4 linked regions of the Homo sapiens genome follow. The protein of the gene in region 4 purifies or fractionates together with the protein of the main gene of each other region. This does not show direct contact. Each region holds a gene or a part of one and is shown on either strand. Other genes may lie near its edges.

What was found.
Region 1: the proteins of DGCR2 (region 4) and TBC1D15 purify together in Homo sapiens (co-immunoprecipitation; 2 studies listed by BioGRID and IntAct, with this or other methods). This does not show direct contact.
Region 2: the proteins of DGCR2 (region 4) and TTYH3 purify together in Homo sapiens (affinity purification with mass spectrometry; one large-scale study listed by BioGRID and IntAct). This does not show direct contact.
Region 3: the proteins of DGCR2 (region 4) and HEATR1 purify together in Homo sapiens (co-immunoprecipitation; 2 studies listed by BioGRID and IntAct, with this or other methods). This does not show direct contact.

What each region holds. Positions count from the first base shown.
Region 1 is NC_000012.12:71,915,466-71,920,233, reverse strand, and holds part of TBC1D15 (TBC1 domain family member 15), read right to left. Parts: intron 2,537-4,768; coding exon 2,437-2,536; intron 1,784-2,436; coding exon 1,686-1,783; intron 1-1,685. UniProt on the Homo sapiens protein: Acts as a GTPase activating protein for RAB7A. Does not act on RAB4, RAB5 or RAB6.
Region 2 is NC_000007.14:2,644,693-2,649,460, reverse strand, and holds part of TTYH3 (protein tweety homolog 3), read right to left. Parts: intron 2,609-4,768; coding exon 2,439-2,608; intron 2,320-2,438; coding exon 2,208-2,319; intron 2,044-2,207; coding exon 1,823-2,043; intron 1,503-1,822; coding exon 1,407-1,502; intron 1-1,406. UniProt on the Homo sapiens protein: Calcium-independent, swelling-dependent volume-regulated anion channel (VRAC-swell) which plays a pivotal role in the process of regulatory volume decrease (RVD) in the brain through the efflux of anions like chloride and organic osmolytes like glutamate.
Region 3 is NC_000001.11:236,552,042-236,556,809, forward strand, and holds part of HEATR1 (HEAT repeat-containing protein 1), read right to left. Parts: intron 4,218-4,768; coding exon 4,059-4,217; intron 3,899-4,058; coding exon 3,764-3,898; intron 3,615-3,763; coding exon 3,510-3,614; intron 3,424-3,509; coding exon 3,255-3,423; intron 2,712-3,254; coding exon 2,557-2,711; intron 1,699-2,556; coding exon 1,540-1,698; intron 941-1,539; exon of another isoform or gene 67-940; coding exon 1-66. UniProt on the Homo sapiens protein: Ribosome biogenesis factor; required for recruitment of Myc to nucleoli. Involved in nucleolar processing of pre-18S ribosomal RNA. Required for optimal pre-ribosomal RNA transcription by RNA polymerase I.
Region 4 is NC_000022.11:19,111,679-19,116,446, forward strand, and holds part of DGCR2 (integral membrane protein DGCR2/IDD isoform 1 precursor), read right to left. Parts: intron 1-4,768. UniProt on the Homo sapiens protein: Putative adhesion receptor, that could be involved in cell-cell or cell-matrix interactions required for normal cell differentiation and migration.

The DNA of each region.
Region 1 (4,768 bases), on a different chromosome or scaffold from region 4:
CCTGATTGTGACAATAACTGAATTAACTGCCCCAAATTTATAACCAAACATAGAAAACGCTTGATCAACAGCTCAGCTGTTCCTAAATACAGATAATATCCTCGAATTTAGGGTCTTAATTTCCCCCTGCTTCATGTACCTAATAATATATTTTCCACAAAGATAAAAACACCCACACAAACCATACCATGAGATCATACCCGAAATGTGTTTACTTCTTTCAAAAGGAGTAAATCAAGTTGAATAATTTTCAAACTAAACCCAATTGTTGAAAGTTTAATTACAATGCAATTAACCTCAAAGGTTTCATTAAAAGTTTGAATTTATTTAGTAAACACAGATTGAGGAGTTATTCTAGCTATGTGGTAATAATATTCTTAATTCATCCTTTAAAACCCATTTATGCCTGAGGATGCAATTTTTTGAATTTTTCAATCAGACCTTGGTGATGACCTTGAGCAGTAGGATATAAACAACTCCCACATGCTTAGCGTTCCAATAATGGAACACTAGGCATAAATACATTAACCCATTTTTAACCCCCAAATTAAGACACTAATTTAACAAAACTGATAAACATTTAAGTACGATTCCAGATAGAGACCATGTGGGTTTTACTTCTAATCTGAGAACAGAGGAAGTGAGCATAAAGTAATCCACTTTTAACTTGTAATCAGCACAATGCCTTGTCTAATGGTAGCACAGCCATCAATAGTATAGGAATCCATTTCCAGCTGTAAAAACCTCAGAGACCACTAGAGTTCCACTGTATAAAGTTGGATTTACAATCAAAATGGATTATCTCCCAATTCTTTCCTTGGAAGAATTTCTGTTATCCTAAGGTATGATCAATCATTATACCAGCATTCTATGAACAAGCACACTGGGCTGGACACAGTGGCATACACCTGTAGACCTGTAGTCCCAGCTACTTATAAAGCTGAGGCAAGAGGATTACTTGAGTCCAGGAGTTCGAGATCAGTCTAGGTAACATAGCAAGACCCCTTCTCTTTAAAAAAAAAAAAAAAAAAAGCACACTGATTTATTATTAGCAAATACTTTAGAAAATGTGAAATGATTTGGTTTTTCATTAAAGGTTGCCATGGAAAAATAAACACTGGGGATTACACATGGGGGGATGGTGTAAGGGAAACATGGGATGTAAAATTACCTATTGGGTACTATGCTCACTACCTGGGTGATGGAATCATTCACACACCAAACCTCAGCAACATGCAATTTACCTATGTAACAAACCTGCACATGTACTCCCTGAACCTAAAATAAAAGTTGAAAAAATAAAGAGTTGCCTTGGGTAAAAAATGGAACAAAAGGAGTACACCAAAAACATAAGAATATCCTCTATAACAGATGTGGCAAAGCCTCACATAAAGTCAAGTCTCACAAAGGAAGAACAAAGGCAGCAAATGGTCTAGAGCACTTGTTCTGGGATACCTCTTGGCCCCAAATCTCACAGAGATTGTGATTTGAAGAACGAAGCTCCAAAAGACCAAATATTCAGTGTGAAACTAATTTTTAAGAAGAGGCTACCAGTTCATCAGAATTTTGGAACATACTTGCCTTAGATATTTCAGTAAGGCTATCATAATTCATTTACACTCTACAGAATAAATTGTTTCTTTTCATAATAAATATCACATTTGCATAATAATTTAAGGACTTACCTCCCATAATCGAAGAATATCTAGAAAACTAAATTCCCTTTTGAATCTGATTAAAAGCCACCTGAAGCAAAAATAAAGGTATCCAGAGTCCTGAGATTCTATGCAGAAGAAAAAAACACACATATGACTTACTCTTATGCTAATTATGTCAGAATACAGTTACTTTTCTCTAACTTTCCTATGCATCTTAGGCAATTCAAGGCCCTATACATTTGTCTTCTACGTTAAGGAATCATTTCAAACTTGAAGGCTGACTTCTTTTTAAAAACTAACAAATAATACATTTTACGAATCAAGTTTAAGGCAGAATTATACAAAGAGAGTTTGGTTCCACATTTTTATGGAACCGAAGAAAGTGCAATAGAGTATATATGTCTTTAAGTTCTTTTTTATTGAGACAGTGTCTTGCTATGTCACCCAGGTCGGAGTGCAGTGGAGTGATCCCAGTTCACTGTAGCCTCAACCTCCTCGGCTCAAGTAATCCTCCCACCTCAGCCTCTTGAGTGGCTGGGACTACAGGCATGCATCACCACAGCCAGCATTTTTTTTTCCTTGTAGAGATGGGGTCTCACTGTGCTAGCCAGGCTAGTCTCAAACTCCTGGGTGCAAGTAATCCTCCCTCCTTGGCTTCCAAAGTGCTGGGATTATAGGCATGAGCCACTGCACCTGGCTTCTTTAAAGAGTTCTTTACATTTTTTTCTATGCATTACTCTACAATTTGCTGGGTATAGTTCTGATTCACTAAACTTACCTAAGTAACTGCAAAATCCACTGTCTAACAATCGAAGTAAGGTACTCAGCTGAATTAGCTGGGTCTTCATGCCTTGCATTTGTTCTTCAAAATTCTGATGCTTTAAAAGGAAATAATTGTTACAAGTAATATTTAATAAATATTTTATAGTACATAATGACTGATAACTAAAACATGATGTCTAAGGACAAATGCTGAACTTATACCACACTGGTAATCTTAAAAAATGCGTAACTAACCAAAAATCTAACGTAACACTAAAAGGGAGGGTAAAGAGAAAGAATCCTTGCTCTCAAAACTAAGGATTATTTTTTCCTCTATTCATTTGACTTAGATAAAGAAGAATGCAGACATAGCAACTGCAGACTGACTATTTATTTCTTACACAGCATAAAAGACTTGGTGAAAGAAACACACATTTGGGAAATAAATATTTATCAAATTCTTTCCATTGTTAAATATTCCTTCAAATTATACATAATAAAATTAATTTTAGTTTTAGTATGTATTTCATTTTAAAGAATTACTTTACATTGGAGAATCTGTAAAGCCAAAACCATTTTCAGGACAATACTAAAACATTATCTGGATTTCATACTTAAATTCTTTCACAAGTGCAAAGGCTGTATGATGTGTGATACTCCAAAAGACTGAACACAGAAGCAAATATGAAAATTCAGCTGTCTTCTATTAAACCAGACATTTTTAAAAATGAAAAATTTAAAACAATCTCTTGTGTCGGTAAATTTTTCATTAGGAAAGGTTACTTTTCATTAAAAAAAAGTGATCTATGTTAAGGTAGAATGTGTTGTTATTTAATGAATTAATAAATAAATGAATACAAGTTTCTCAGTATTAATTTTTCACATAAACATCAACAGATATAACCCACATAAACAAAAACTCTTTCAGGTCTTCAATAATATTGGAGAGTGTGAAGGGGCCCTGAGGTCACAAAGTTTGGGAACTGCTGGGGTTCATATGCTTTAAAGAAACTTCATAGTTGAGTAGACTCCCTACCAACACCTGAGTCAAGGGGCCAGAAGGCACCAAAACTGATGCTCTGAAAGGCTTCTTAAATGATTTGGATCCCTTTAACTCATATGTCCCGATCCCTCTGTGGTAACCTACCGCCCTAACCCTAGTGAAAGCCTTAGAAAAACATTTCCTCCTTCACACTTACTTTTTCACTTTTACAGTACAATAGTGCTTTATTAGAACTATCATATTAGAAACAATTCATTCTTAAAAAAAATTTAAGTCTATTAATTCTCAATAAGCTGTTTCTCTTTAATGAATTTTAAAAACCAGTTTATTAATAGACTAACTCAAGGCTTTAGGATATAGTTCCTCCACATTTACCAGAGAGATCTATAGAGAAGGGGCAGAATCAACTCTGATTAACAGGATCATTTTTGCTGTGACACAGTCAAAGACTAGAGCTGATCTGGGAATACCAACATGGCATAGACATTTGCTACCCACTCTGCTGTAAAAAAGAAACATGTCCATAATGACAGACACCATATTCGAAAAAGTGGTTACTCCTGGAGAAGGGAGAGTGGGATCAACAATGGATATACAAAGGGCTTCAAATGTGTCTGTAAATAAATGTGTCTGTATGGGGCAGGGGAGGGGGAGATGGAGAGGAGAAAGGAATTAAAACTATATGGCAAAATGGATGATGGGTATAACAAAGTTCATCAGATCACTTGTACTTTGTATTTCCATGATAATAGACAAAGTCTATGCCTAGACCTACATTAGATGCAAGTAAACATCAACAAAAGTAAATTTACAGACGTTAGGTTCAGCCACCACAAAGGTAGTACAAACTTACATGAAGTAAAGCTATAAAACAGAAACACAGAATCAAGAAACAGCAGCACAGATTTAGGGACATCAAACAAGGGCAATGCAGTGAAAAACAATCATACAGGTTATTTTGATTGCCATATATTTCCCTCTCATTCAAATATTATGAAAGAAAAGATGTTAGCAGACAACATAATCATAAGATATCTTTTTTAGAATAAAGACTAGAAAAATCCCCAGAACATCCTTAATGGAAAAGGCAAACACAGAGAGCATTTACTGTGAAAATGACAGAACAAAGAAACTGAACCTTCATACACAAAAAATGACGGACTGTAAAGTGTTTATTACACATGTTCAGAAGGTAGTCTTTACATATGAGACCTATATACACACGTCTGTATGCATGTGTGTATGTGGCATTATATGTCAATATATATTTACATGCCAATATTGGATTAGTTTTATTGAAAACTTATTGCATGATACTAAATGCAGTATGTTCATCTTAGTTGTG
Region 2 (4,768 bases), on a different chromosome or scaffold from region 4:
CCACACATGGGCTGGGGCTCTTCCTGTGGCCTGGCCTCAGCCAGAGCTGCCCACAGCCCAGGGCCCAGATGGATCCCTCTCCTAGGTGGGGTGGGGCTCAGAGATCTGAGCTGGAAGCAGGACTGGAGGGCCACGTGGCTCTTGGGGCCCCGCCCCTCCTGTCCCCCAGGTCCCTCTCCTGAACAGGCAACAGTGTCCACTTTCACGTGGGTCCCCGCATCCCGCCGCCCACGTAGCAGCCCAAGGGGCCTGATAACGTCAGCTAGATCAAGCCCTCCTGTGCTGAACCCTCGCTCAGCAACTGGGGACTCAGAGCTCTTGCTACGGCACTGGCCTCTCCCTCATCTGAGGCCTCACCTCACCCACATCTGGCTCCCTTTGATCCAGATACACAGGCCTCCTGTGCATACCCCACTGCAGGTGCCCCCACCACGAGTCCCCCATATCCCAGTTCAGATCCCCAAAACACACCCCAGTGCAGGCCCCACACCCCACTGCGGGCCCCACACCCCACTGCGGGCCCCACACCCCACTGCGGGCCCCACACCCCACTGCAGGCCTGCACACCCCACTGAGGACCCCACAACCCACTGCACACTGTCATCCTTCCTGTCTGTCCAGGCGTCCCTTACTCCCTTGGGCCCCTGCTCAATCCCTCCTCGCTCAGGTCTCCTTGGGCACAGCGTGAAGCTGCACCCCCCCCCACCACCCTACTGCAGGCCTTCACACCACCCCGGCTTTTCCTCTCCAGGGTGCTATCACCTCTGGCCCATGCCACGTTTCCCTCATTCTGCTCCTCTGTGGCCTGTGAGTGCCACGTGGGGGGAGGCTGTGTGTTCTCCCATCTCTCCCAGGCCTGGCCCAGGGAGGCACCAGCCATGGCTGTGCAGCTGCGTGGTGAAGGGCAGTGACAACACCTTACCTCCCACAGAGGAGCTGCCGCTCTCTCTGCCTTCCAAACGAGGAGACCAAGGCCCAGCAACAATAAGCCACCTGCCCAAGGTCACCCTCCTAGTGAGCCGGAGCTGGGGCTGGAACCCAGGCTGCCCCAGGGCCAAGGATGGAAGGGGTGGAGGAAGGAGCCCCAGCCTGGTCTCTGGGTGGCCCCAGGCACTCGGAGACCTGGGCAGGTTGCTTCAGGTCCTGGGCTACAAGTGCCCCACGTGCAGACTCTTGCAGGAAATCAAGGGCTGGGGGCAAGTGTGCTGGGATGCTGGCCACAGGGGCACAGGCCACAGGCACAGAAGGGGCATCTCAGAGCAGGCCCAGTGCAGGGGGGTCCCGCTCAGCCCCCACCGCAGAGCTTGTGGCTAGGATCTGCAGATGAGGTGGGGGAAGGGGTAACATGGTGCCTTGCCCTGCCCCTCCGCTTTGGGCCCACGGGGGGCCGACACCCCCAGACTCACCCCACCAGGATGCCCTTGGAGCTGCGGATGAGGCCAACCAGCACCAGGAGGCAGATGATGACGTCCAGCAGCAGCAGGCCCAGGTAGCCCAGCCACCTGCAGGCAAACCTGGGAGTGCGCCAGGGCACAGGGACCCGGGGCCTGGGAGTGGGGCGCCAGGGGCCCTTGAGGGGGAGCTGAGGCCAGCAGCCTGGCACCCCAGAGGGCATTCAGAGCGTCTGGGTCATGGGGACTGGTGTCAGTTCTTGAGAAAGGCTCCCATTAGGGGAACTCCAGCCACTGCCTGTGACCTCCAGTGGCCCTGGGCCACACCCTGCCCATCAGGCCTCATGTACTAGGTGCTGAGAGCAAAAATTGGCCCAAGGAGGGTGATGCTTTCCCACGTGGGGCGGGCAGGGAAGAGGGCCTGGCCGCACCTGTACCAGTCGTAGAGATCCACCTGCTCCGCCAGCACCTCCAGCGACACCGCCGTGTTCCTCCAAAAGGGGATGGCGGCCGTGTAGCCCAGCAGCGTCTCCAGCAGGCCCTGCAGCCTCTGTACGGCTCGCAGGGGCTCGGGCCGCCCGGCCAGCTGCCGCTCCAGGGTCTGCAGGCTGGGCTCCGCCGTGTGGTTCAGCCCCACCGCCGTGTCCCACACCTGCGCCGGACCCGCGGGCGTGAGGCTGGGAGCGCGCCCGCCTCGCCCCAGAGTCTGGGCCCCTCCTGCACAGCCCCAGTCCCGGCTGCCCCGCCCGTCCTCGCGCAGACGTGGGGCTCCGGAGCAGCAAGAGTGCTCCTGGCCCCAACTCCGCGGCCACTCACGCGGTCCTGGACCCCGGCCACCGTGCGGTTGGCGTGGCGGAGCGAGTAGGTGGCCCTATGGATGCCATCACTGGTCTCCCCGTTGCCGTAGAATCCCACTGCGATGCCGGCGCTGGAGAGGGCGGGCCCGTGAGATGTAGCCCCGCCCACCCACACACACCCCACTCCAGCCCCGCCCCCTCGGGCCGCCCCCTCTGGCCCCGCCCTCCGTCCCCGCCCCACCGCGCTCACCTGCACACCAGCGTGGCGATGATGACACACCAGGCCGTGCAGCAGCAGTCGGCGTCCAGGTGCTCCTCGCTCTTGCGCCGCCGGCAGCACAGCCAGAAGGAGTAGAAGAGCAGGAAGAGGAGGTCCAGGGCGAGGCAGGCCAGGGCGGCGGCCCCCAGGAGCAGCAGGGCCTGAGGGCAGGCAGGAAGCGGCGCTGGAGGGGTGGACCCCCAGCTCAGAGTCCCACGCCCCGCCCCAGCAGGGGACCTGGCGCAGACTCCCATTTAATCCTGCCCCCAGCCCTGGGAGGTGGGCCCCATCCCCGACTTGTAGGTGAGGCATGGAGTCTCCCACCACCTCAGTGATGCACCTGGGGTCACCCAGGCCTGGACCCCACACCTGGGACCCCGGTCTCGCCATCCTCAAGGCTGCACAGCATGAAGACTCCATAGCCACTAGGAGGGGCCGGGTGAACCGACTCCAGGCTTCTGTGGCTCCAGCAAGGGCACATGTCCCCTCCCCACCGGGTCCCCAGAGTCCAGGGCAGGTGCTCAGGACGTCTGCCCCACCAGGCCCCAAGGAGAGGCGCTGGATGGAGGTAGCCAGAGAATGTGGGTGACAAACGAGGACGCTGCTGGTGAGCCACCATCTTTGCAGCCACAGCCCCACTAGGGAGGTCCCTCCACCTCTCCGAGCCTGGTTTATCTTCTGTAGAAAGAAGTGCTGCTGAGCAGGGCAGGGTGGCTCACGCCTGTAATCCCAGCACTTTGGGAGGCCGAGGCGGGCGGATCACCTGAGGTCAGGAGTTTGAGACCAGCCTGGCCAACGTGGCGAAACCCCATCTCTACTAAAAGTACAAAAATTAGCCAGGCCTGGTGGCGGGTGCCTGTAATCCCAGCTACTCAGGAGGCTGAGGCAGGAGGATCACTTGAACCCGGGTGGCGGAGGTTGCAGTGAGCCGAGATTGCACCACTGCACTCCAGCCTGGGCGACAAGAGCGAGACACTGTCTAAAAAAAAAAAAAGTGCTGCTGCTCCCCCGAAGAAGCGAAGCCCTGGGGAGGGGGCTGCCGGCATCAGCTACTGTCCTCACCCCCAGCCCGAGACAGCCCCAGGACCCCAGAGCCCGTCCCCGTCTCAGGCCCAGAACTCTCCTACCTGAGTCCTGGCAGGATCCCCCACCCCAGCTGTAGTCCTGAGGTTTTCAGGTCTGGTAGGGAAATTGGGAGCCTGTGGGGGACTGAACCCCCTCTTGCTGACCATGAAAGTGTTTCTGAGGGGTGAACATGGAAGAGGCCCCATCAGGAGTCTGATCCTGTCTGGGGTCTGTGCACCGAGAAGCTGCACTCAGGGGTGGGCACCGTCCATGGCGTGCCCCCACGCTGGATGAGATGGTGGGGCTGGCCCCACACTGCTACAGGCTGCATACAGGCGCCCCATCGGACACACAGCCCTGTCTGGCTCCAAGCACGGCCTTCCAGTGTGGCTCTCCCCAGGTCTCTGAACACAAAAGACAGACCACAGAACAGACACCAGAGCTCCCCTGTCCCGAGGCCAGGCGACCCCCACAGGAAGTGGCTAATTTGATGCAACAGTGACATTTCCTCAGCACCCGCTGCGGGGAGGGAGGGTAACGTGGCCCCAGAGCTGTCCCTTCTCCTGGCACTGCATTCGATCTGCCTGGCCGAGTGCTCTCACCCCATTTCATCCACAGGGAAACTGGGCTTCATAGAAGCTACAGAGAAAGCACACAGGCCCTGCAACCCCAGGTCCCTGGATTCAGCATAGCCCTGCCCCCGGCTCAGCCCTCCAGAACCTCCACACACTTCCTGTGCCGGGGGAGGGATGGGGAGCTGATACAGGGCTGCGCCTCATCATGGGGCCAGGGACCACCTAGAGGCTAACTTGGGGGTGCCCTGGGGGGTGTCAGCAGCTGGGGCCCTCAGTGTTGTGGGGTGGCCACCAGGCACACCTGCGCTGCCCTCATTGGCACTACTGCAGAGAAACGCCTCTCTCCCCACATCTCAATGCTTCAGCAGTGTGGCCCTCTTGGGACCCCAGCCTTGGGAGCTGCTGGGGCAGATGGTCCCCTGCCTGGCCCCCCCTTGGGATGAGAGGCTCAGCCACAGTGGGCAATGGGATTGCTGCTGGATCTCCCAGGAGACGGTTGCCAGGCAGTGGGAGGATGCCGTGTCCTGCCCTCCAGGAAGCCGGCCGACGTCCACACCCGAAGGCGGCCTTTCCACCTCCACCCAGCCAGGGAGGTGCTGACCAGCCCGGCACACCCAGAAATGAGCCGCCATGGTCCAAAGCCACACCGGTGTGTCCACGGCTGCCCAGCAGCCAGCAATC
Region 3 (4,768 bases), on a different chromosome or scaffold from region 4:
GACAATATAATTCTCCTTTAGTTTTTCAGCCAGTGCTAACACAGTAATCAAAGCAGCAAATCGAACCTGAAAGGGATAAAAGAGCAAAGAAATAAAAAGTAGTGTTACTGTATTTATTATCTTAAGAGCTGTACTGACTTGAGACAAGCTCTAACTTTTTAAACATTAGTTCACATGCGTTTATTCACTTCATTATGTTCATTAAGCTTTCATCTTAGAATACCAGTTTCACCATTTGGGAGCTGTTTGTAATATGTGCAACCTTATAAATAGTGTTTTCCAAACTGTGTCCCAGGACTGCAAATCTTTAATGTGAAATGTCTTTTTATAATCTCTTCCTTTAAAAAAAACCAATAAAATAAAATGCCGCATGCAAACTCAAGTGTGTCACCAGATTTTACTTCATTGGCGCTCGCCAGCCCGCCAGGCTGGCAATAAAGTGCCTCCAGCCACCTCTGGCAGGTCTCCTCACCCACAGCCCCTGACTGGTCACCACTATAATTGTATGAGGGGCCAGGACAGTCGCTTGGGATAAACTCCCATCTCAGCACTGAATAAAAAACATTCTGTGTCACAATATCCTAGTTTTGGGGCTTTAAAAACGTCTAGGTGTTCCTCACATGCCTTGTCTATAATAAGGAAAGCAAGCAGTAGTTGGGTATTGTTAGCTTTTGAAACAAAAGCCCTACTGGTCTTCTAATTTTGGATATTTTAATTAAAGAATATCTGGACAGTACAAAGTGAATTATTAAAAAACCATTTGTAACTACCTAGATTCAATCAGGATTTCCTTGATTTGTGCAAAGTAAAATATTACAATAAATTTGATACTGCTACTTGTATAAAAACCTATGGTTTAAAATGTGGGGGTTCATCATAATAGTCTCATTGTTAGCATATCCTAATAAAGAATTTGAACTAATAAATCCTATTAATAAAATTCTGCTTTGGTCTGTTATAGCCAGTAAAGTTCTAATACAATCATTAGTTTGAGAAATGGTGACTCATTGCTAAAACAGTTTGAAATTCGTAACACTTGGGTGTCAAATTTTGACTTCCACTCAACCTACCCATGTTTTATTTCCACTGCCACCACTTACTCAACAAGATCATAAGCCTAGTATCTATAAACAACAGAATGTATTGCTCTAACTCAAAAGACTATAGTGTGGATAAATTCAATGCATTTCTCTCTGGAGCACAATGACATTTCAATGGCACTTAAAAAAGAAGGAATTACTTCAAATCTTTGTTATTTAAAAGTATTTAGAAAGTATTTTAGTACTTCTGCCCAACGCACCATTGGGGTGGGGATAGGGCATTGCTATTCTTTACAAATAGCCTGTAAGTAAAAAACAAAATTTTCTTAGGCACAAATTTCTGCCTAATACAAAAGACCGGACCTCTAGTACTGGATGACAAATAGCAATGTTCTTCCCTGCCAGTTTACTAGGGGGCCTACATCTGTGACCACCTGCAGGCTGTTTAGGCTATGCAGTGAAAAGATGCAGTTTCAGTACTTGTCACGCAGTTCCTAACCTTAGGCGAGGAGTCTCTCGTCTTTAGCAGAATCTGGTAGTTCAGTGGTTTCCAAAGAGAGTCATCCGCCATGGCCACCGAAAACTGTGCGATGCATGGTATCAGGTGCTTTGTCACCCGTTCCTGGAATTTCTCTTCTCCCCCAAGCCTGTTTTCCAGCTAGGAAGAGTAAGACAAAGACTTTGAACAACAAGTCTCATTTCTTTCTTCTGTTTGAAAAAATATCCAACATACAAATATTTTACTATCTTTCATGATATTAGCAGGTTCAAAAACCAGGCATTATTCTAATACTCTCTAGGGCAAATGTATTGCCTTCTAGAACTCAAATGGAATCTCATACCCTTTATCATCGCCCCTTTCTCTCCAGCAGAACATCTCAGAGGAGCTCTTTGCTCCAGAGGACAGCCATGCTCTGACGCGTTCTCAGTGAGGCCCAGTTAAAACAAATGAATACATTAACCATGACAGCTTATATCATGTCTGTCTTTTGAGCAGTTTAAAAAATAAAAAATAAAAAATAACTCAGGGCCAGGCATGGTGGCTCACGCCTGTAATCCCAGCAGTTTGGGAGGCCAAGGTGGGTGGATCACTTGAGGTCAGGAGTTCGAGACCAGCCTGGCCAACATGGCAAAACCTCATCCCTACTAAAAATACAAAAATTAGCCAGGTGTGGAGGCGGGCGCCTGTGATCCCAGCTATTCGGGAGGCTGAGGCACAAGAATTGCTTGAAACCGGGAGGTGGAGGTTGCAGCGAGCCGAGATTGCACCACTGCACTCCAGCCTGGGTGACAGAGCAAGACCCTGTCTCAAAACAACAAAACAAAACTCAAATTCCACAATGAAGTTATATCTTTGAAAAAACAATTTTCAAATAAAACATTTCATTAAAAAGACCAGAAAAAACAACCTTACAAAGAAAAATCCTAGCAAGCTGTCATTTGAGCAGATCTAAAACCTGCCAAGCTCGAACAGTGATGGCTTCCTCAGCAACGAAAGATGATTCTGTTTGGTTACCTGATCCACCAGAGGCATCATCAAGGCTTCTGCTCTCTCTTTACTTATAAAATGCTGGGTATCAAAAAGGAAGATTTTGTATAAACAGTTCAAAATAAACTGCAACAGCAAGCAGCACTTTTCAGGGTCATTTTCAGAGTCAAAAAATGCTTCATCTGTAGACGTGGGAAGAGTAAAAATGAAAAAACACTGAACTTAACCATTTAATCTCCAATGTTTACATTGAAATCACTATTAAAATAACTAAATCAGAAGAGTCTAAAATGATCTAGAAATCATAATCAGGACGAAGGCAGAACACAATGGATGGTCTCTCGAAGAATGATTCCTTCTTTTAGAGTTAAGATTCTAACACTCACTCTGGCAAGTTAAATTCCCTCAACTGTCAAGTGGGTCACGTATTAGCATTAGAGAATAAACTAATCTTAATTTTTGCGTTTTAAAGTTACTTCCAGTAACTGACAGTAACGGCCATTTACTTTATTCTTTCTCCCAAGTGAGGTGACTTATAACATTCGCTCATGATGCTAAAACAACACTTCACTGTCTGACAACAATGAAGTAAAAAATTCACCCTCCTTAGCTTAGGACTTAAGAACCTCTAAAATCTTGCTTCCAAGCACTAGGTTGTGTCTTACTGGTACCTTGTATAAGGCACACAGGGCAAGGGTGACAGCTGAACTGAAGCGACCACCCACCTGTTTTGGAGATGTTCACCTGGTTCAAGGTGTCAGCAAAAGGCTTCACTAAGTGGCCGGCAAACAGAGTAAAAAGCCCTTTCAGCTTTTCAGCAATGCAATCTGCCAAGTTGTAAAATGTCAACAACCTGTCCTTTGGGGCATCTTCTGTTTTAGCCCAATCAAACAGCTGAAAGGATAAGACAGTATTAGTTTCTTCGACATCTTGTCACTTAAATCTGAGCACAAAAGAGAGGAAGAGGAAGAAAGCGTCACCTTGAAGAACAGGGGCCTGAATGTGACCTCGGAAAGTTTGACAACCATGGCTACTAGACAGTCAATGATACAATTTTCCGTTTTTCCAACTTCCTCCAGATCGTTCTGAAAACAGAAGAGCCCATTTATTAGAGTGCTGATACCTGACTGTAAATTATTTTGGCAAGTACCACTGTTACACGGCTAGATTGTTCTCGGACTCTTCAATAGGTGGATAACAGCTTTAGGATTTGGAGGAGTGAACCTGAGCTTACCTCAGAGTGCTGGGCTCGGAAGTCCAGGGCTTCCAGGAAAAAGGCGGTTAGCTGAGACTGATGGGAGGTGAGCTCTTCCTTCTTCATCACCCCAATATGCTCTTGCAAGATGCTCATAAACGGACCCATGTGATTCTACCAATAACACAGGAAAGAGATGTGCCATTTTCAAATGATTCCTAGAGTTCAGCGGTGTGTATTTTTAAAAACTAAATCTTCTTCTTTAAGTCAAAGTTTACACATTGCAGTACCACCTCTCCCTTCTCCAAAGTCTTAATACCCAATAAGATCTAACCTTCCAGTTCTTCTCAATCTGCTTGTAAGTTTTTTTGATGGCGGGCAACAGGACTCGGGGTGCAAGTGTGGTAGCCAGTGTCTTTTTAAGAGATGTGAGACGGATATTAGCCTGTGACGCAGAACCCATTTCACTAGTGATTTTCTCCAGATGAATCACCTACAGGAATATAAAAAAAGTGATCAGGGCCACTGCAGATCTTCGCTGACAAACACACACTTACAGAGAGGCTTCATGATGAGGTACTAGTGTTTGGAAAATGCTTAGCACTTTTTAACTACACACAGAATTCCTTTTAAAGTCAGCCCTAAACGTCAGTGGATAAAACTGGGCAGACACCTCTTGCCCAACTTGCGATCAGGGACGAAGGCCGATGGTAGACGCAGACGCACACACAGCACCCAGACAGATGATTTTCTTAGAGGACAGGAATGCAAGGGACCACGGCAAGAGTCAAGTTGCTAAAAAACTGAGAAAGCTCCTCAGAGCACAGGCCCCTTTCTCTGAGAAGGCTACTTTTAAACCCTGGCTGTGGTGTAAGTGAAGCGGTTTAATCATTTGCCCCATGGTAATGAAGGCTCCTAACCTTGTAAATGGCAAATGATCAACACAATGGAACAGCCAGGTCTCAACATTCTTGAGCATCTTCAATCATAAATACCACTGGCCCCTAGCGTGTTGACAGGAAACCGCTGACGTGCAATACAAAA
Region 4 (4,768 bases):
CCACTGCATACCCAAAGACTATCAGAGCACGAACCCAAGCTATCGGATGGAGAGGAAACACAAAGGGTGATGGCTGGTGGAATGAGACCCTGTTAAACCAACAAGCTCACAATGTCAGCACTTGGGCCCAAATAGCCCTTGAACATCTAAACTCTTTTTTGTTTTTATTTTTTATTTATTTATTTTTTTTTGTCTCCAGGAAGAAACTGAAACTTAAAAAGTGATTTACCAAGAGTTTTGACAAAAGTACATCAACGAAGGCTCAGGACTGTCAGAAATGAAAAATAATTATTTTTAAAATATCTATTTATTGGCTGAGCATGATGGCTCATGCCTATAATCCCAGCACTTTCAGAGATGCAGGCGGGTGGATCACCTGAGGTCAGGAGTTCAAGACCAGCCTGGCCATCATGGCGAAACCCCATCTCCACTAAAAATACAAAAATTATCTGGGCGTGGTGGCACGCACCTGTAGTCCCAGCTACTGGGGAGGCTGAGGCAGGAGAATCGCTTGAACCCGGGAGGCAGAGGTTACAGTGAGCCGAGGTCGCACCACTGCACTCCAGCCTAGGTGACACAGCAAGACTCCATCTTTTAAAAAAAAAAAAAAAAAACCTAGGAAAATAATAAAACCGTTCAAAATTGAGATGCTTCCTTACCAATTAGTGTAATGAAAGAGGGGCTTGTTATAAATACTGAGGTTACAGTAAATACCACTCTCAATATTATTTAATAAACATGGTTTCAAATCAAAACAGGTTTTTTTTTTGGTTTTGGTTTTTGAGGCAGGTCTTGCTCTGTTGCCTAGGCTGGAGTGCAGAGGCATGATCTCAGCTCACCATAACCTCTGCTCACTGGGCTCAAACGATCCTCCCACCTCAGTCCCCTCCAAGTAGCTGGGACTACAGGCGTGTGCCATCATGCCCAGCTAATTTTTGTAGTTTTTGCAGAGATGCCATATTGCCCAGGCTGGTTTAGAACTTCTGGGCTCAAGCAATCCACCCACCTCAGCCTCCCAAAGTGCTGGAATTTCAGGTGTGAACCACCCGGCCCTGCCTCAACACAGTTTTGAACCTAACTGTGTAACAATCACATGGAAGAGAGAAGAGAATTAATCCAAGTAGCTTTTGAACCCAAGAACCTTGAGTATACACCATCAATCTGAAAACACAAAGAGCTAAAAAAAATTAAATTAAATTAAATTCTACTTAATAGGTCTGCTGTTACTAGTGGTGCGAATGCAGTACTTCTGAAACTATTCTGGGTGCAGTGTAAGACTAAGCAAATGAGTAAACCTACTGATGCTGTTGGGAGCCAGGGTTCTCACTGTAGAAAAAGAGAGAAACAAACATGCAACAGAGAAAGCAAGCAAGAACCTGGAACGCTGGATTAGAACTAAAGAAACAGTATGGGCCAGGCACAGTGGCTCACGGCTGTAATACCAGCACTTTGGGAGGTGGAGGTAGGCAGATCATGAGGTCAAGAGATCGAGACCATCCTGGCCAACATGGTGAAACCCCATCTTTACTAAAAATACAAAAATTAGCCAGGTGTGGTGGCGCATGCCTGTAGTTCCAGCTACTTGGGAGGCTGAGGCAGAAGAATCGCTTGAACCCGGGAGGCGGAGGTTGCAGTGAGCCGAGATCACCCCACTGCACTCCAGCCTGGCAACAGAGCGAGACTCCGTCTCAAAAAAATAAAAATAAAAAAAAAAAAATAACAGTATGAACTTACACAGGCACAGACACATGCACGTATGCACACACCTCTTGGGCTAGACTGAAAAGATGGAGTCGCAGCATACTCTAGTAGCTAGCAATAAACACATCTACCACCAAAATCCTGCTTTCTAAATACCATCTCCCACCAAAAGGAACCAGCGCTCTGTGGGAAAATGCCCCATTCCAGTGTGGGGCAGGTAAGGTACAAGATGTGCCTGGTAAAAAGGAATTTCAAGTTGATGGAAACATGTCAGAAGGCGACACGCTCCCATCCTGAAAAGGCCAGGTGAAGGGGTTTCCACTTGCCAAGTCAACCTACTGTTATGTAGGTTTGAAATATTTCCAAAGTAAAAAGATTTCTAAAAAAGAATGAGTTAGGCCAGGCACAGTGGCTCATGCCTGTAATCTCAGCACTTTGGGAGGCCAAGGCAGACGGATCACCTGAGGTTGGGAGTTTGAGACCAGCCCAGCCAACATGGCAAAATCCCATCTCTACTAAAAATACAAAAATTAGCCGGGCATGGTGGCAGACGCCTGTCATCCCAGCTACTTGGGAGGTTGAGGCAGCATAATCACTTGAACCCAGGAAGTGGAGGTTGCAGTGAGCTGAGATTGCACCACTGCACTCCAGCCTGGGCAACAAAAGCAAGATTCCATTTGAGGAAAAAAAAAAAAAAAAAAAAAAAGAACGAGTTAAGACAATCTTGCCCCGACCCATTCCCACCTTTCCTCTCCATCTTTTGTTACCAAAGGAAAAAAAAAAAAAAGAATGAAGTTATATATGCACTGATCTACAAAGATCTCAAAATAAGTTAAATACAAAAATTAAATAAAAAATATAATTCCATTTATGTAAAATATTCTATGTATGAATGTTAGCAAATGTGAAGAAATATCAACTTTATTTTTTCTAGATTGTCCAGACAAGATCTTCTACACCCTTGGGCTCTCTCCATGCCCCATGGCTTACCATGCTGGTCTAGCAGGCATCCTTCGCAAATAGGGTAGATGGGGAAATCCGAAGAGCTGCTCCCACTGTCAGGAGTGGCCAAGAAACCTCCAAGAACTGCAGCAAAGGCCTGCCATGGCCCCCAACAAGCCTCTAACTCTTCCAGGTCCTCTTATTCTAAGACCATAGACAGAGTTCTGTAGGTAAACTAATCTACCTGGAGGCCCTAAGAAGCAGCCAGTGGCACCGGAGAGACCTCTGCATCAGCAGACCTAGTTTCAATGGAGCATCTGGCCCGGTCCTGTGGTCAGTCTCCTGCTGATCATCCCTGTGTTGACCTTCTGGGTCCCTCTGCTGTGACTCCTGCCCCTCATCCAGTGCCCTGGCCAGCCACAAACAATCCTCTCCACAACTATGAACTCCTAAGGAAGGTTTCCCAGAAAATGAGACTTCCCAGGCAAGGAAGAGGGCAGGGTCTACCTGGGGGACCCTTAGTCCACCATACCCACCAGAATACTGTCCTCAGTACTGTCCTGTCCAACAGTAGCAGCCAACAGCTGAAGGATGACAGACTAACCAAGGAAGACAAGCTAACCAAACTGATAGCTGTCTGCCATTTTGCCAGAGGTCAGCCAGAAGTCAGCCTACAGGGAGGGACCTGTAGGGGACAAGGGCACTAAGAACAATGACCAGCTCAGAGTGACTGAAGCAACAGCTACCGCAGGCAGAGGAGGAGGAGAAGGCCAAGAGGCAAGCATGTGCAGCCCATGCAGCCCATGCACCCAGCCAGCTCTTGACCAGAAACAAGCCCTGCACTGTGCAAACAACCCAGGGAAGGTCCAGCCACATCCTCACACAGGGCAGTCCAGTTCTCAAAGCCAGGTGCCAGCAAGTCCATCAGAGAGGCAGCTCCCTCAGCACCGGCTTGCTGGGGTCCCTCCCTCTGGGAGCCCCTCAACCCTCCACCCCAGGCTGGGCAGCTGGTGAGCTTCAGTGAGGATCCACATTAATGAGAAGCCACACTTGCTCTCACCTCTCAGCTCAGCTCCCATCACAGAAGCAAGCTCCTACCAGGGTGGGGCCCAGGCCAGCTGGCTCCACAGCCATGTCCCCTACCCCCGGATCCCATCCTCCCAAGGCATTTTTGCAGGACTGCCACAAGGCTCTCATCCTCCTCGCCACCCCCACCAGAGGCAGCTGCAAGGCCTGCTGGCTAAAGTAGCTGTTGCTCTTTATGTCAAAATATAAATAGGCATTTGTGCATTTGTTCAATAACTGATTTCTGAGTGCCCAGTCTGTGCCTGACCAGGCCCAGGTGACAGAGCATGAATGTGACAAAGAGCAAAACGTGTATGAACAATCCCAGCCCTGTCCAAAGCACCATGGCTGTTTCGGGGGCTCTCAGCAAGTCATACGCAGTCCCTCTGATCCCATCATAACAGCAAAGAGCACTCTCTGTGTGGCAGACACTCCTCAGAGCCACTGTACTCTGCCACCTCCTGAGGGAGCTCTCTCCCGACCAATAAGCCCTGTGCACAAACCACCTCACATTTCACATTTCAGTTCAGGGTTCCTGAACTCTATCTGTGATTAACACTAACATTTTGCCTGATGAAGAGTTTGCTTTATGTCAGACACTTTTTAGAATTTTATACTTACCCATTTTAATCCTCACAACATCTCTATAAAGCTCTGTTACGATGTCCATGTTCCAAATGAGGAAACTGAAGAGTGAGCAGTAGAACAGATTGAGCCTAGGCAGTGTGGCTCTAGAGCCCATGCTCTTAAGCCACCATACCCAACTGCCTGCCATGGGCCAGGATGAGAAGGCTTGATCTAATCCCAGCTGCTACTTTTACAGACAGCTCATTTGAGGCAAAACCAGACCTGAGCTTCCCCATCTCCCAGGAGGATGCCCAGAAGGTCCAGGGCATCTGGGTCCACAGGCTATTCACCCTCCAACCTAGACTTGCCCTGCCAAGCCCGCCATGTCCACACTGACAGGACACACAGCTTGGAATGGCAGGATGAGATGGACTGGCTTTGACTAAACTTCCCAGGACAACTGGTAAATCATGTCAGAAACACAAATACAGGT